Homo sapiens: one gene and its partner. The protein of the gene in region 1 binds, or shares a complex with, the protein of each later gene. Links are inferred from orthologs where the notes say so. Each region holds a gene or a part of one and is shown on either strand. Other genes may lie near its edges.

Region 1 (8,785 bases):
GTCAGGTATCTATTGCCATTCAGAGGGATGTGTGGAGCTGGAAGTGGTGATTGCAGATTGGTTGGGATACAGTCTGAAAGGAACTGACTGGACCCCAAAGATGATCAGTATTCAGGGAGCAGACAAGCGAACCCCGAGGAGGCAGGTTCACCTCCTTGTGCGCCACCTCTTGGGAGGAGCTATTTGAAGGCGTGGGGAGTCAGCAGCAGTGTGAGACCACAGAGAGGAGTGAAGAAGAAGGGAAAGAGGCTTTTATTGTGAGCCCTCATTGTGTCATCTTGATAGTCAAGTAGCTACAAAAGGTTATAGAGAAAAAAAATCCGAGTCTGTAAATGAAAACTTCGTATAAAAATGTTGGCACTGAGGCCAGTGGCCTCTAAAAGAGCCTTTCATACCAATGGGCTTCAGCACACCCACCCTCTTTGGGAGCTGCAGAAATTAGTCAGCTGAGATGACCTTCAGGTTCCTTCCTATCCCGAGAGCCTGTGACTCTGGGCTTCTTAATTTGAGGGAGAGGAGGAATATCCCCTAGGTTTTGAGGGTGCTGGAGAGATGCCCACAGTGGCTGTAATGCTTGACGGTAGGGCTGCATTTCTGAGAGGGGTGTGCACTTAGGGCAGCTGGTCTGAATCTTACAAGTATAAACGCTTTCTAAAATCTAATGGGGTGTCTGGCTACGACCATGTGTAGAACAAACACCCCCAGTAAAACAGTTCTGATTGGGTGGCTGGGGGGCAGATATTCTTATACTATAGAAATTCTTACTGACTTCAAGTGGGAGTTGGATAGATTTACCCATTCCATTCTTGCCACAGATTCTATGGAGGTGAAACCTATCATGACCAGAAAGTTGCGGAGGCGACCAAATGATCCCGTCCCCATCCCAGACAAGAGGAGGAAACCTGCTCCAGATATCCATTTACATCAAGCCTTAACCGCCTTTCTTTTTTAAGACTGTGGAATCCTATGTTTATCCGTTTGCTAGGGTACACATGGCCGTTGTCCTACAGAAAATAGTAACATTTAACTGGAAAGCGTGTGTTAAATGTTTGTCCACAGGTCAGGGGTTGCTCATTTTATCATGGTAGTCCTCATTTGCTACTGCTTTTGGTGGGAGAGATGTATAGAGTTGTGATTTGGAAAGGTGCTTTGCATGCAAAGTTCAGCCTGGTTTTAATGCTAACATCAAGATTCAGGGGCATCTGAAAACTTGATGTGCCTTAATTTTTTCACCTGTAATTTTCCACCTTCCAACTGTAAAATGAAGGCAGTAATATCTACCTTTATGTACCTCTGTTATCTATGTCCATAATGTAGTGGATTGCAACCTGTTTTTAAATTAAAGCAAATGAGATTTCAGTCAGACATAAAGCAGCCCTTTAATCATAAAAATGGTAACGGAAACAGGAAAGATGGAGAAGCGTTGTTTCTGTTCCTTTCGAGGAGATGGTGAATAGCTCTCTGCCCAAAATGGCTTAGTCATTTGTGTACCATCAGGAAAGGGCATAACTTCAGGTTGCTTCTCCTTCACAACAGGAGTTAAGTTGCTGAGGGAAGATTGGCCTTACCTTGGGTGAGTGTGTGTGGAAGTCTTTAGATCTTTGGAACAAAAGCGCTTTATACATTCATGATGAAATTCTTATTTTACTGTTTCCTTTGCTGTGTTATTGTAGATGCCTAATGAAGCTCATTCCACCTTCTCATCCTAGCAGTGGGGGATGTGAATTCTTTTATGTATTGAAGTACCATGACATTTAGTAGGAGAATCATAAATTTCTAAGAAGCAAACTGTTACTGTAGAAACATCATTTAACAAAATCATACTTTGTAAATTCTAAAATACTGGTACCATTGTGTTGATTACTCTTTGCCTGGAAACTGTACTTTTCACATACAGTCCTTTAACTCTCAACACCCCAGCTAAACTATTTGTTAACAGATGAACAGATCATGGAGGATCTGAGAACATTAAATAAGGTACGGTTTGACTTTTTTGATTTATTTGAAAACTCAGGCTTTTGTGGTTTTCTGATTTTGTTTGTTAACATGTTACTTGTTAATCATTATGATACCTTTGACACCTGAAGTTGCACCTGAAATGATTTTCTCTAAGATTTTTTGTTGTTGTTCTTCCTACAGCTTAAGTCACCCAAGAGACCAGGTGAGTGCATGATGTGTTGGCATTTGTGCAACCTTTTTATCATGTTGTTGGAAAAGGGTGTGAATACCTGTCAGGAAATGGTTGCAATTTTCAAAAATGAAATGTTCATCATTTGCCTAAGAGTAGTCATCATGAAAACTGAAGGGGACCTTAACTATACCCCTCCCTGATTTCTTTTTTTTTCATAACCCCTGCTTTGTTGTTTTTATTTTTTTCTTAGGATTTATCATAAAAGAGACATTTGATTGATTGATTGATTTCCTTCTGTGTAGGCATCAGGCATAAGATTTAAGTACACATCCATTTTTGAAAATGAAACCAGAAGGATTTTTAAGTATTACTGGCTTTCTAAAGCCAAGTCCTAGGCAGTTCTGCTCCCGTGGCTTTTCGTGGCCTGACTCTGGTAAGGCATTCCAAGGCTGCTCTGACTCGCAGTTCATAGAAGAGACCAACCAGCTCAGTATTCATAGTTGTTCCTTCCGGAACAGCACTTGAGATCATCAGTGCTAGCTGCCAACTAGAATTCTGAATTGGTGACATCTTTTTTTTGTTTAAAGCACCATGATTACTCGATTACTCGATTACTCACACATCCCTCTACTTACTGAGTCTTGTGGAAGAAAACAAGAGTCTTCTTTTTCTAGGTAATATCTTCCTGGGGGCCACTGCGGTCCACAGACATCCTGACCTTCTGAGGCACGATGGGGAGGGGTGAGGGAGTTGTGTGAGTGTAAAGTTAGTAGTTCTTTAAGTGATTCCTTTTTTTTTTTTTTGGATTATGGAGTCTTGCTCTGTCGCCAGGCTGGAGTGCAGTGGCGTGAACTCGGCTCAGTGCAACCTCCGACTCCCAGGTTCAAGTGATTCTCCTGTCTCAGCTTCCCAAGTAGCTAGGACAACAGGCATGTGCCACCACACCCAGCTAACTTTTGTATTTTTACTAGAGATGGGGTTTCACCATGTTGGCCAGGATGGTCTCATCTGTTGACCTCGTGATTCACCTGCCTCAGCCTCCCAAAATGCTGGAATCACAGGTGTGCGCCACCGCACCCTGCTGAAAACGATTGCATTTTTAAGAGATTTTCATAATACTTGCCCTTTGATCACCAGGGCTTTAGTCCTACTCTAAGTGACCTTATGTATTTGCACATTTGACCTTAATCTTCCTGAAACCCAGGTGTCTCTTCCATTTGAGAGGCTAATCTGCCTTGCCTACTTCCCAGGGTTGCTTTGATGATCAAGTTTAGATGGAATATACAAGAGTTTTGCTGAAATCCCATGCATTATCACTGTAAGGGCTCAGTGATGATTATTACCACATTCTGATAGTGTTTCAATTAAAGCATGTTAACTGGTAGACTCGCATGTGTTTGTTACATTCTTAGTCACGTAAGTATTGGTTTCCTCCAGCATCTCCATCCTCTCCTGAGCACTTGCCTGCAACACCCGCGGAATCTCCAGCCCAGAGGTTCGAAGCTCGGATAGAAGATGGCAAACTGTACTATGACAAAAGATGGTATGTTATGGGAAAACCTGGACTAGTAAGAGTCTCATATGAACCACTTGGAAAGAGGGCTGGGGCTATTGTAGTTATTTCAGATCACGGCTGCTGCTAAACTTACATAGTACTAAAAGTAGAAACCCATTAAAAAATGTATTAGCAGTCATTTAATCAATACTTCCGGTGGATCTTTGAAAGCAGCGTTTCCCAAAACCATGTTCTGCTCCCCTTCCTTCTCCATTCTGGTGTCTCTGTACTAGAATTTGCAGGCTGGTATCTTGTGTGGTACCCCTGCCAACTGGGGCTGGGGTGTATGTCCCCCCTCTGACCCCTCTTACCTCTGCTCCTGTGTGCTAAGGTTAATAGGTGCTCTTCGGATTAAAGGATTTTGTGGTCAAATCAGTTTGGGGGATGATCATGTTAATTAAGATAAGTGGGTTGCTCCCTTGTAGTACCCTTTGGGTCCTGCGATATGCTAATGTACACTGTGAATTTCTAAGATGTTATTAGATGTTTTTTGATGACACATACCCTTTTTTCTTACATGATCCAGCTGCAAAAGTGGTCAAGGACACTTGCTTGGGGGAACTGTATCCTAAAACATTCCTAGTTTGTTTTTTGTTTTTTGAGACGGAGTCTTGCTCTGTCGCCAGGCTGGAGTGCAGTGGCGTAATCTCGGCTCACTGCAACCTCCGCCTTCCAGGTTCAAGCGATTCTCCTGCCTCAGCCTCCCGAGTAGCTGGGATTGCAGGCACCCGCCACCATGCCCAGCTAGTTTTTGTATTTTTAGTAGACACGAGGTTTCGCCATGTTGGCCAGGTTGGTCTCGAACTCCTGACCTCACATGATATTACTGCCTTGGCCTCCCAAAGTGCTGGGATTACAGGCATGAGCCACTGTGTCCTGCATTCCTGGTTTACATTGAAGACTCTTTGAAACGTTCAGACCGCCTAGCATTTTTCATTGGAAAGGTAATGGCAAAACAGTATGAAAGAACCTTAAAAGCTCATACTTTTGTTCATTCAACAAACATTTCTTCTGTTCTGTATTACGCTTTCTGCTAGATATGAAATGGATACTGCCATCATTTCTCAGGTCTTTTCATTCTGATATATTTCTTTTTATTCTTTATCCATATGCAGGCATAGTCTATTCATTCTAAGGCATAGTGGACATACGGTTTGCTTTGCCTTTCTGTTTGGTTATATTGAGAATGTTTTTCTGGGTTACTGTAAGGTGTCTCATTATCATTTATAATGGCTATATAATGACCCTTTGAGTTTCAGTATCTAACCAAAAGTTCCAAAATTGGGGTAATGATTATTTATTTTGAATTCTTAAAAAAACCCAGCATTGTGTTAGGTTGGTTACCCGATAACATTGTACTTGTCAAAAATGCTTAGGGTTCTAGTCATGGCCGAAGTAAATCATTTCCACCTATTAAGTTGCAGTGAGTTAATTGCCCAGTAGATGCTGGAGGCTGGCTTTATCTCTAAGGCTGATCTTGATGACTTCTTCCCCTCTGAGTTGGTGTTCTTTGGCATTCTTCAGAAAGGTCGGTTTGTGTTATATCTTAACATTATGTCTCAGAACACATCGCCACTAGGTGGCAGGCTCTAACAGCTTAACACTGAGAAGGGCAAAATGAGATGAAAAATGTTTCTAATAATGAAAACCAAATAACCTTTAAAGATCAAGCCCACACATAAGAACCATCTTTGAAAATGATGAGATTTATCACTAACATTTTTACAAATCTATGAGTCTTAAAGCCATGTGATATTTCCAGTGATGTTCATTTTGTAATTGTGTTGCTTTGAATCTTCCTCTTTCTAAGCTTAATCCTCAGACTTTACGAGACATGTCTTGAGGGTGAAAATGCAGTAAAATAAAATTCTTGTTTTTTTAAAGAAGAGATCCACAATGTCTGGTGTTTCCTAATGTAAACAAAATGATCAGATTTGATGTGTTAGAACTCCTAAGCATTTTGAAGGAATTTTCACCATCTTTCTTACATTAACAGCAGAAATTTAGAAAATAATGTCACTGGATGCATTTTACTTTTTCAGTGAAATTGAAATTGCTTATTCTCTTGTTAAATATACTTTGAGAATGTTGTTTTTTTTCTCTATTCTGTATACTTTTCATTTTTGGCCTTGGCAGTCAGAGATCATAATGCAGTTGTTGAAGGTGGGTCTCCCTCTTCCCCAATGACAATTGAAAAGTGTTCCTGGGAATACTGGCTGAGGTGTTCACTGGTGCAGTGCCAGCCTCTCCCATCTCACCAGGCTCATGTTTGGCTTTTGTATCAGTTTGGAGGTTTTGTTTTTCTTTCTTTGGCAGACGTGGCCTGTGGCTGAGAGGTCAGCTACATTGCTTTATGCTCTTTCCAGAGGGTATGGAGTATTTTGGTGCAGCCGTATTTTTGGCAGAAGATGTCTTCCTGAGTTTTAAATGACTTCAGCAAAACAAATGGGATTCAGGCATCGCATCTTGGTGTGAATACTTGCCAAGCTCCCTTTCATTTTGAAAGATAAGGATCTTCCCTTTGCCTTGGTCTTATACTGCTTTTAAGGCATTCTATATCATGCTATGTAAATTTGCCTCACATTTTGATTTGGACTAATGATCTCTCAAAAAATACTGTGAAAAAGTAGCTGATATTTGAAAATAACTAATTGATGGTACGGGTGGACTTCTGTTTTTCTCTCCTTGTTTTAAATCTGGGGCTGCCTGTGAGTCAGAAACGAAGCCACCCACTTGCTCAAGAGCATTTTCCCCTTCAGCCTTCGGTCGACACAAAAGACTTAAAACAGTGAATATTTACCAGTAGAATTGGGACTCCTTGAGGTTCTGTAGCTATAACGTGGACTCACTTATTGGGGAAATAAAGTGTTAATACCAGGATTCTCAGTAGGATACAAAATTAAATTAATTTTCCTACCTCCTCGCCCCACTTTTGTGTCCACCTTCTTAAGAAATTGCTTTTCGAAAATAGTACAGTAGTGGTAATTTCTAGTTTTGTTCGGTTTAATAGTAGAGGTTCAAAGCTTTAAGAACTTAATTGTAGAGATTCCCAGGTCAGAATTTCCATTAGTTACAAAGTAATAGAGTCAGTTTGACATTTGGGGCTTAGTCTTTGAGGCTATTTAAATATCTTTTTTCAGCAGCTGAGTTGCAGCTTGTAAAACAGGTTAATTGGCCTAAAAAAAAAACGCACATTTTTACTACCCTGTTGATGTTGCTTCGTAGCACATTTTATATCTAAACATATTTTTAAATTTCTTCCCCCCCCTTTGATTTTTCTTTAGAAATTAAAAAGTAAATTCTTATGTTAAGGTTGTCACATACTTCTTGGTTTCATCTTTAACCGCCCCCGCCCCCCCATATGAACACTTCATTTTTTATTTTTTTGAGACAGGGTCTCACTGTCCCCCAGGCTGGCATGCAGTGGTGTGATCATAGCTCACTGGAGCCTTGATCCCCCTGGCTCAAGCGATCTTCCCACTTTGGCCTCCCGAGTAGCTGGGACTACAGTCCTCCATTACCATGCCTGGCTAATGTTTTTTTGATTTTTAGTAGAGATGAGGTCTTGCTATGTTGCCCAGGCTGTCCTCAAACTCCTGAGCTGAAGTGATCCTCCTGCCTCAGCCTCCCAAAGTGCTGGGATTACAGGTATGAGCCCTGAACACTTTAATATCTAAGGACTTATCTTTTCAGAGAATTCAAATAATTTAATAGATTTGGTATCTAGGGATAATGGTTCCCCCAAGACATCGTGTAGTGCATGAGGATCCCTTGAAGGTCTCAGAGACTGCGGTTCAGGAGGGACCTGGTGATCAGTTGGTTTGGAAGTTGGCTGCTTTGGGAAGCATGTTGGCCACCTCTACTTTGGAGCAAATAGGGACCAATGGTGGACATTCAGGCCACCACCATTCAGTGATTCCAAAGGAGGCGGATCTGGGAGGTGGCCACATTCCCAAGTTCCAGACCACTTCCCAGAGGTAATAGACCAGCTTGCATTGTTTACTCTGGGTGTTCGCTTTTAAGTCAGTTGAATTTCTTGGGTTTGGGTTCTAAGTACCACTGAAGGAAAATACAATGCATCTCATGAGAATTGTTGGAATAGCCTTCCAGAGTCAGCTGTTTTCTTTAAAAGACCTTTGTGAGGATATGATACATGGATACACATGTAACATGTATATGTGTTATTTTTGGTTTTTTTTTTTTTTTTGAGACAGAGTCTCGCTCTGTCGCCCAGGCTGGAGTGCAGTGGCGCAATCTTGGCTCACTGCAGACTCCGCCTCCCAGGTTCAAGCGATTCTCCTACCTCAGCCTCCTGAGTAGCTGGGACTACAGGCACACGCCAATATGCCTGGCTAATTTTTTGTATTTTATTTATTTATTTATATTTTTTGAGACAGAGTCTCGCACTGTCACCCAGGCTGGAGTGCAGTGGCGCCATCTCAGCTCACTGCAACCTCCGCCTCCCGAGTTCAAGCTGTTCTCTCCCTCAGCCTCCCAAGTAGCTGGGACTACAGGCACCCGCCACCACGCCCAGCTAATTTTTGTATTTTTAGTACAGACGGGGTTTCACCATGTTCGCCAGGATGGCCTCTATCTCCTGACCTCGTGATATACCCGCCTCGGCCTCCCAAAGTGCTGGGATTACAGGCGTAAGCCACTACGCCTGGCCAATTTTTTGTATTTTAGTAGAGACGGGGTTTCACCTTGTTGCCCAGGCTGGTCTCGAACCCCTGAGCTCAGGCAATCCACCCACCTTGGCCTCCCAAAGTGCTAGGATTACAAGCATGAGCCACCATACCTGGCCAGTTTTTTTTTTTTTTTTGAGACAGAGTCTCGTTCTTCCAGCCAGGCTGGAGTGCAGTGGCATGATCTCAGCCCACTGCAGTCCCTGCCTCCTGGGTTCAAGCAATTCTTGTGCTTCAGCCTCCCGAGTACCTGGGATTACAAGCGCACACCACCATGCTGGCTAATTTTTGTAATTTTAGTAGAGATGGGGGTTTCACCATGTTGGTCGGGCTGGTCTTGAACTCCTGACCTCAAGTGATCCACCCACCTCGGCCTCCCGCAGTGCTGGGATTACAGGCGTGAGCCACTGCACC
Region 2 (8,785 bases), on another chromosome or scaffold:
CCTTTATATAGATACTAATCCAGAATTTTGAAAGATAGTCCCACTGGGCACAGTGGCTCACGCCTGTAATCCCATCACTTTGGGAGGCTGAGGTGGACAGATAACTTGAGGCCAGAAGTTCGAAACCAGCCTGGCCGACATGGTGAAACCTCATCTCTACTAAAAATACAAAATTAGCCTGGCATGGTGGTGCACTTCTTAATCCCAGCTACTCAGGAGGCTGAAGCATAAGAATGGCTTGAACCCGGGAGACGGAGGTTACAATGAGCCAAGATTGCTCCACTGCACTCCAGCCTGGGTGACAGAGCAAGACCCTGCCAAAAAAAAGAAAGAAAGATGGTTCCAATTCTGTCCTACTCTCCCTGTAAGTCATCAGTGTGTAGAAGGTACCTGTATTTTGACATCAAACCACGTCTCTGTCATTACCTATTTGTTTCTGGAAGAGGGACAAAAATTATTGTTATAGTCAGGTCCTAAGTTTTGTTTTGAGACAGAGTCTCACTCTGTTGCCCAGGCTGGAGTGCAGTAGTACGATCTCGGCTCACTGCAACCTTTGCCTCACGGGTTCAAGTGATTCTCTTGCCTTAGCATCCCAAGGGCTGGGATTACAGGCACCTACCACCATGTTCAGCTAATTTTGTTATTTTTAGTAGAGGCGGGGTTTCACCATATTGGCCAGGCTGATCTCAAACTCCTGACCTCAAGTGATCACCCTCCTCGGCCTACCAAAGTGCTGGGATTATAGACGTGAGCCACCGCTCCCAGTCCCAGGTCCTAAGTTTTTGATTAGAAAAATATAGACACTGTGGTTGATAATGGGATGTATGGCTGATGTGGTCTTGTAGACATGTTGTCGCTGTAGACATCTCACAGAATACTTTTGTGTCTCTGTCCCATCAGAGGCAAGAGCAGGCTACGGAGGAGAATGCTGGTGTACCTGTTGGCCCACACCTCTCACTTGCGTATGAAGACAAACAAATACTGGAAGATGCTGCTGCTCTGATTATCCACCATGTGAAGAGGCAGACAGGCATTCAGAAGGAGGACAAATATAAGATAAAACAAATCATGCATCATTTTATTCCAGATTTGCTCTTTGCCCAAAGAGGTGATCTCTCAGATGTGGAGGAAGAGGAAGAAGAAGAGATGGATGTAGATGAAGCCACAGGGGCAGTTAAGAAGCACAATGGTGTTGGGGGCAGTCCCCCTAAGTCCAAGTTACTGTTTAGTAACACAGCAGCTCAAAAATTAAGAGGAATGGATGAAGTATACAACCTCTTCTATGTCAACAACAACTGGTATATTTTTATGCGACTGCACCAGATTCTCTGCCTGAGGCTGCTACGGATTTGTTCCCAAGCCGAACGGCAAATTGAAGAAGAAAACCGAGAGAGAGAATGGGAACGGGAAGTGCTGGGCATAAAGCGAGACAAGAGTGACAGCCCTGCCATTCAGCTACGTCTCAAAGAACCTAGTGAGTGCCGAGACCTCTGATTTACAGAGGATGTGTGAGGTTGAGGACCTTAGAGCCACCTAGACTTGGGACTGCTTCTTTTATTAATAGAGCACAGGCATTAGAGTCTGTGTAGTTAAACTCTCTGAACCTGTTTATCTGAAAAATGGAGGCTCTAGTTGCTTGTGGTGTTGCTTTGTGCAAAGTATCCTATGCAGGGCTTAGATCATGGACACTTGGTCAGTGGTTGGTACTGTGGACGCACCTGGGAAGGGGGTATCACAGTTAATTTCTCAAATGGCAGATTTCTGGGTTACTGCCATCTGTTTCAAAGTACAGATAGAGACTAAACTGTCACAGCCAATTTCAATCCATGACAGAACATAAATTCCTAGTGCTTAAAACAGAATTTTCTCATATTTTTGAGCAGGACTTCTGTTTAACCAGTGGGGTTTATGGCTCATTCTTAATATGTAGAAATAGTTTATGGAAAGGAGACTGGAACTCAAAAGGTGATATGAGACATGGAGAACAGGCAGGACAGGGATAAAGATGTAGAACTCAGGAAAAGGAAAGTAAGTGAGGGTTCAGGACGCTGTCATGTGCTTTATGTAATTTTGTGCTGCCTGCTTCCAGTTCACGTCATAAATTAGGTACTTGAGCTGTGAGCCAAAAGCTTTTTCATGAAGCATTTCTTCTGGGCTCTTAAGGAAATAGCCAACCTGAGGAGTGTATCTTCTTCTTCTTTTTTTTTTTTTTTATGTGTTGCTGATGTAGGAAGCCCAGATATGGCCCTAGCTTTCTATCTGTTGAGGAGCTAATGACACTGAAAAATAATTCTGAAAGCTTTTATCTAGACTAGTCCTAGCTCGAAAGAGATAAATTTTAGATCTCATTGTGGTGATTCCATCTACTTGGGTAGAAATTAGAAATTAAATGGCCTATTCCTGGCTTGGCCACTGACTTAACCTGGTTTGAGGCTTACATAATGTTGTCTTGTCTGATAATGCCAACCCTCACACTTACCACAGCTTGTTTGGACAAATCTGTGGTTTGGACTCAAAACTTTATTCTGGCATAAAAGCAGTTTTCATAGCAGTGGTATATTTTGGAGTCTATAGCCTATACCTATTCTATGGAGCTAAAGAATGTGATAGTCTGTGATGAAACTCAAGCCAGTTGCCTCTTTTAAACAGTATTTGTCCTGTTTTGCCTGTTTTTTAATGAATTCGTCAGACTTCAGATAAATGGAGACAACTTGGTTTTGCTCCTAGCCTTTTTTCTCCAGCACAAACACAACTAGCAAGTAACCAATTAGTCAGTGACAAATAGTTCGTTTTGTAACTTTTTTCATTTTAGTCAACTTTTTGTTGAAGTGCAATGTATAGGCCGGGTGCAGTGGCTTACACCTGTAATCCCAGCACTTTGGGAGGCCGATGTGGGAGGATCACTTGAGGCCAGGAGTTTGAGACCAGCCTGGTTAATAAGTGAGACCCCATCTCTACAAAAAAATACATATAAGGTACGGCATGTATATATAGAAAAGTATACAAATCAGAATTGTGCAGCTCAGTGAATTTTTACAGACTAGACGTACCTATGTTCAAGAAACGAAACATAACCAGTACTCTGATAACCAGTCCTTTTTCCACTTTGTTGATTTCTAACACTAGAGATTAGATTTGTCTATTTTTGAACTTTATATAAATGGGTCTTTAGTAAGCTAAAGGCAGCACTCTTTAATACTCCTTGTGCCCTCTGCTAGTTGCCAAATGTCTTTAACAACTGATGAGATTTATTCTAGCTAGTGATTGAAATGATTCATGTGCAGCAACTACAGATGATTTAATGCAATTTGTGAAATACAACGTAGCGAATCCATTTTTAAACAAAAGGACTTTGACAAATGCAGATTACTTCATTATTCATAAAGGATTTAATTTGCACTCCTATTTTTGTGTTCCCAAGAGGTTTCCCAGTGCTGGAGTATGGCTGTGTCTGCCTTTCCTCATCTGTACTTTATGCTTCATTGAAATAGCTTTATGAGCAAGTGACCCATGTGAGGAATGCTCTTGTGCAGGCTGGGAGAGTAGGTTCCTCTCTCAGCAGGGGAGCCAACAGCTCTTTGAAGGACTGGCTTCCCTAGGATATTTTCCTCTCTGAAAGTGGCCCAGCAGTACCATAAAGAAGTATCTTTCTAGCATGGTAGTCAGAATATTAGAAGCCACTGTTAAAGTTGCAGAGTCACTCTGATAGTGCTGGTGATTGTAGTCACCTGTCGGAATTCATCTCTGTTTACATTGGAATGAGTGAGTATATTTTGAATACCTAGTGTTCATACTTTCAAATGCCATTTAGGCCAGCTGTGGGATTTGCCCTGTACTCTATCCCTAGTCTTTTCTTAGCAAGGTAAGGCCTCACCAATCCCATCTCTCCCACAGTGGATGTTGATGTAGAAGATTATTACCCAGCTTTCCTGGACATGGTGCGGAGCCTGCTGGATGGCAACATAGACTCATCACAGTATGAAGATTCACTGAGAGAGATGTTCACCATTCATGCCTACATTGCCTTTACCATGGACAAACTGATCCAGAGCATTGTCAGACAGGTGAGGGCATGGAGGAGGCTAGGGTGAGTAAGGGAAGAAATCCTTACCTAGAGATGGGCCACGCAAGGAAAAGGAAAGGCAACTTTTTCATATAACAGTGTTTATGAACGTAGGGTTCTGAAGAGAGGAGGGGAGGTTAATGTGATGCCTGATTTCTCATGTTAACAAAGTTGCAGTGTATGAGCCTGCCTACCCCATATCCTTTCTTGCTGGCCACCTGTAGAGTGCAGTGGTCCTGACCCCAGCTTCCTGCACAACTTGTCTATCTCTTACCTTGTCTGCCATGGGTAAGCACACAGTGTGGAACATTGCGTCTTCCATAGGTGTTGGTAAGTTTTTTTTTTTTTTCCTTAAATAGAGACAGGGTGTCACTGTTTTGCCCAGGCTGGTCTTGAACTTCTGGTCTCAAGTGATCCTCCTGTCTTGGCCTCTTAAAGCGCTGGGATTATAGACACGAGCCACTGCGCCTGGTCAAGGTGTTGGTAACTCTTATGTACTTGCATTGTTTAATATTTGAAATTCTTTTTATAAGAAAGGGTTCACATAACATCTTTTATAATACTCTGCCCACCTCACTCATCTGCGGTTCCCTCTAAGTTAGGTTTCTGGTTGGTTTTGTGTGTTCTTCCTGTGGCACCCTGGGAACTTGTAAACATGTTGTTCTTTACAACAATGATATAAAAAATAGCTTGTAACAGATAGTCACATTTCTACTTCTTGGACTTGAGTTCTGAACTCCCAGAGAGATTGTTGGTTAACTGCTTTTTTCTTTTTCTGGAGACCCAGCTCTACTGCTGATTGACTGCAAGTCCCCAGCAGGGCTTCATTTTTCCTTTTCAGCATCCTGTTCTGTGGCTCCCTTGGCCCTTTTTGCCCATATGCCAAAGAGCTGAAAATTGATGTGGGCTGTGTGAAGACTGGCAAATACCTTAAAGTTCTTAGTGATGATTCCAGCTTTCTCCTTCTTATAGACGTACTATATGGGCATTATTGGTCCTGTCAGCTGGGTGGCTGATTTGAGTTTTTCAGAACTGTCTCCCTTCTTGGGGGCTAAGAGCTTCCTGGAGAAGAGGTTGAGCTTGGAGTCTTAACTCCTTCAGGTGCTGAACATTGGCCCACAGGGACATGGTGTACTAATGCCACCCTCTTGTGGATGCTGGTCACCCTTAACTCTTCTAAGCTGAAGCCCCTGCCAGCTTGTACTTTGGTGTGGTACCTCACTGTGGGGCAGCTTACCATGGGTCAGATGGGTCCAGATGCAGGGTGCAGGTCAATGTGGTATACTTTTGCTTGCATCTGCAGATCTTCTGGGCTGGCTGGTTGAACCACGTGGCCATGGGCCACTGCGATTCCTTGTGGAAGTAGGGCTTTAGGATCATGCTGTTCCACCTGGGTACCGTGGCTACCTACAGCCCTCTTCCATAGAATAGCTCAGCAGAAAGGCGGTGAAGTACTTAAGTGAAAACTTGTAAAAAGCAATTTCTAATTCTAGAATCCACACTGCCACTGTAGAAGGAAAGAGCTTGTTGCTTAATGTTCTCTTGGGCTAAAATATTGAATTCTTTGCAAAGTACCCATGCTTTTGCCTTGGTTTTGGAAGGGTGCATGCCTCTGTACTCCTCCCACAGTATCTACACAGGATTGAGGAAGAGCCCTTCATATAAATGAACCTTAACATCTGGGGGAAAGTTGTCAGATAGTTGTTTCCAATAAGTTGAAGAAGTTGTTAGGCCTTCCCATAAGAGGTCTGGATGGTAACTGGCAGAAATCATTAGATGGATACATAGTCACCCATAGTCATACTTTTTCAGACTAATCTTCCTTAACTTCCCTGAAATTTATATAAAATACAGACTCCAGTTACCCTGTGCTTATGTTGCTGATTACAGGCTTGCTGCTGCTTCAGCTAGGAACGAAGTCTTTCATACCACCAGCACAGCTTAAAAAAAAAATCCAATAAAACTAACTTTTAATAATTCTGAGGTTGGTTTTCGAAACAATAGTTACAATTATTTACTGTATCTGGTTATGATTTTGAATCAGTAATAAATACTATCTCCACCCACCCCCCGCTTTTTTTTTTTTTTTTTAATGGAAACAGGTTTCATCCAGAAAACCCCAAAACAGTGACTTTTTTTTTTTTTTTTTTTCCAACCCAGGGTCTCACTCTATTGCCCAGGCTGGAGTGCAGTGGTGTGATCAGCTCACTGTAGCCTTGACCTCCTACCTCAGCCTCCCAAGTAGCTGGGACCAAAGGGGCCACCACACCGGCTAATTTATTGTATTTTTTGTAGAGATGGAGTTTTGCCATGTTGTCCAGGCTGGCCTCAAACTTATGGGCTCAAGCAATTCACCTACTTCAGCCTCCCAAAGCGCTGCGATTACGGGCATGAGCCACTGTGCCCAGCCTACAGTGACTTTTTAAAACATTTTCAAGCTTCTCAACTCCTTTAACTGGAGGTATCTCTTCTCTCATTCTCCTCATATTTGGTGTTCCCTCAGATTCCACTGCTGACTGAATGTACAACATATATTTCAAAGTCAAGGCTGGTCATGGTGGCTCATGCCTCTAATACCAGCACTTTGGGAGTCCAAGGCGGGCAGATATATTGAGTCCAGGAGTTGGAGACCAGCCTGGGCAACATGGGGAAACACTATTTGTATTAAAAATACAAAAAATTAGCTGGGCATGGTGGCACATGCCTGTAGTCCCAGCTACTCAGGAGGCTAAGGTGGGAGGATCATCTGAACCCAGGAAGTTGAGGCTGCAGTGAGCCGTGATTGCACCACTGCATTCCAGCCAAGTGAAGCCATTACATTTATCTTACCTATTGTAGGCTGGCTTAAGAGGGATTTGTATTAAGAATACAATAGGCAACCTCACAGACATCCAAGTACAGAACTCAAAATAGGACCACACCATGGAAGGATTGGGCTGGGAGGTGATTTTTCTCTCCTGCATGCCTTCACTCTGGACTTCTGCTCCATGCTTGTGCTTTGCTCTGCAGATGAACATACGGCATGTGCTCCAGGCTCCTCCAGCCTCTGAGGCTTTGGCTTGCCCTCCCAGTACCCCTGGTCCCAGTGTTACTAGACCTTTCCATACAGATGCTCCTCCTCAAAAAATCTATTGAACACCCTCTCTGTCATCTCCAATTAGCAAGATAGAGAATCTGATCTGCTTAGCAGTGGGGGTGGGAGTTCCGTAGCTGTCTCTGGATTTGTAGTGCTGTCTTTTCTGAAGACTCGAGGAGGGGCCAGATATCCAAAAAGAGAGTATGGGTGGGGAATCAGTAATACAGTCTACTTCAACAAGAAAGTATAAAGTAGAGGCGGTGGCTCACGCCTGTAATCCCAGCAGTTTGGGAGGCCAAGGCGGGTGGATCACTTGAGCTCAGAAGTTTGAGATCAGACTGGGCAACATGGCAAAACCCCGTCTCTTCTGAAAATACAAAAAAGTTAGCTGGGCGTGGTGGCACATGCCTGTAGACCCAGCTACTTAAGAGGCTGAGGTATGGGAGGGTTGCTTGAGCCCAGGAAGTTGAGGCTGCACTGAGCCAAGATCACGATGCCACTGCACTCCAGCCTGGGCGACAGAGCGAGACTCTGTCTCAAAAAGAAAGTAGAAAGTGGAAGCATCTGTATGTATGATTGAAGTCATGCTTTCCATCTGTTTTTTTCCACCTTTTCTTTTTTCTCCTAAAACACTGTATCTTAATCTTCCTCATGATATCAGGTACTCATAAGCATTATTTTAATGGTTGTATCAGAATCCTTTATCTGGACTCATTGTGATTTATTTATCCATCTGTAGTTGCTGGAGATACTGCCCTTTCTGCCACACTCAGTCACCGTTCTGACCTTTCACTGTGTCCAGTTATCTACTAATACACATACTGGTCATTTAGGACTTAAGAATAAATAGTTATCATGGTTCCTAACACTTAAAAAGAATGTGTCTTCCTAAAAATAGAATGGCTTGGTGGTTATGATCATCTTAAAGTTTTTTAAACAGACAAATCAATATTGAAATTAACGTTTTGCTTTCTTCTTGTATCTATTTTTCACTTCTGTCATTTTGATGATAAAGTTTCATTTGGAAGGATTTTTATTTCAAAATAGAAATAGCATGACATGAGAATGGGAACTCTGAAACGTTCAACTTTCTAGTCATTAGTTTCCTAAGATTGTCACAAAAGCTACTGATAGTCAATCATGATTGGCCTGTATGGAAAGTGAGTTAACTTTATGTACAACTTAAGCCCTATACTTTCTATCAGATACAGAAAAATAGGTGATGTGTTTGGAAAAGTATTGGGCTAGGAGTCAGGAACCTTGACTTTTAGTCCCAACCCTCCTTCTTCAGCTGAGCACCCCTGGGCAATAATTCAGCAGCTATTTCTTAAATACTTAATGAGTTTCAGGCTTTGTAGTTGGCCTGGGAATATAGACATAGATACTGCATTCATGATTCTCCAAGGCTCCCTTCCTCACCCCAGCTCACGGTGAGCTTTGCAGTGGTGCAGTCTCGGCTCACTGCAACCTCCATCTCCCAGGTTCAAGCGATTCTCCTGCCCCAGCCTCCCAAGTAGCTGGGATTACAGGCTCCTGCCACCACGCCCGGCTATTTGTGTATTTTTAGTAGAGATGGGGTTTCGCCATGTTAGCCAGGCTGGTTTTGAACACCTGACCTCAGGTGATTGGCCCACCTCGGCCTCCCA

The links.
Region 2: the proteins of SUDS3 (region 1) and SIN3A are in contact, whole or in part, in an NMR structure (PDB 2N2H), measured with the Mus musculus proteins. The link is inferred for Homo sapiens from one-to-one orthologs. Residues at the interface, in NP_848737.3 of Mus musculus: Ala205, Leu207, Asn208, Tyr209, Leu210, Leu211, Gln215, Ile216, Glu218, Asp219, Leu220, Thr222, Leu223, Leu226; in NP_001103821.1 of Mus musculus: Glu616, Glu619, Leu620, Val623, Arg672, Ile673, Tyr674, Ala675, Lys677, Asp680, Ile681, Ile691, Ala692, Ile695, Val696, Arg699, Met702, Lys703, Glu706, Trp707, Glu709, Ala710, Phe714.

Annotation. Positions count from the first base shown.
Region 1 is NC_000012.12:118,399,844-118,408,628, forward strand, and holds part of SUDS3 (sin3 histone deacetylase corepressor complex component SDS3), read left to right. Parts: intron 1-815; coding exon 816-911; intron 912-1,915; coding exon 1,916-1,977; intron 1,978-2,139; coding exon 2,140-2,161; intron 2,162-3,568; coding exon 3,569-3,674; intron 3,675-8,785.
Region 2 is NC_000015.10:75,384,931-75,393,715, reverse strand, and holds part of SIN3A (paired amphipathic helix protein Sin3a), read left to right. Parts: intron 1-900; coding exon 901-1,474; intron 1,475-3,894; coding exon 3,895-4,064; intron 4,065-8,785. UniProt on the Homo sapiens protein: Acts as a transcriptional repressor. Corepressor for REST. Interacts with MXI1 to repress MYC responsive genes and antagonize MYC oncogenic activities. Also interacts with MXD1-MAX heterodimers to repress transcription by tethering SIN3A to DNA.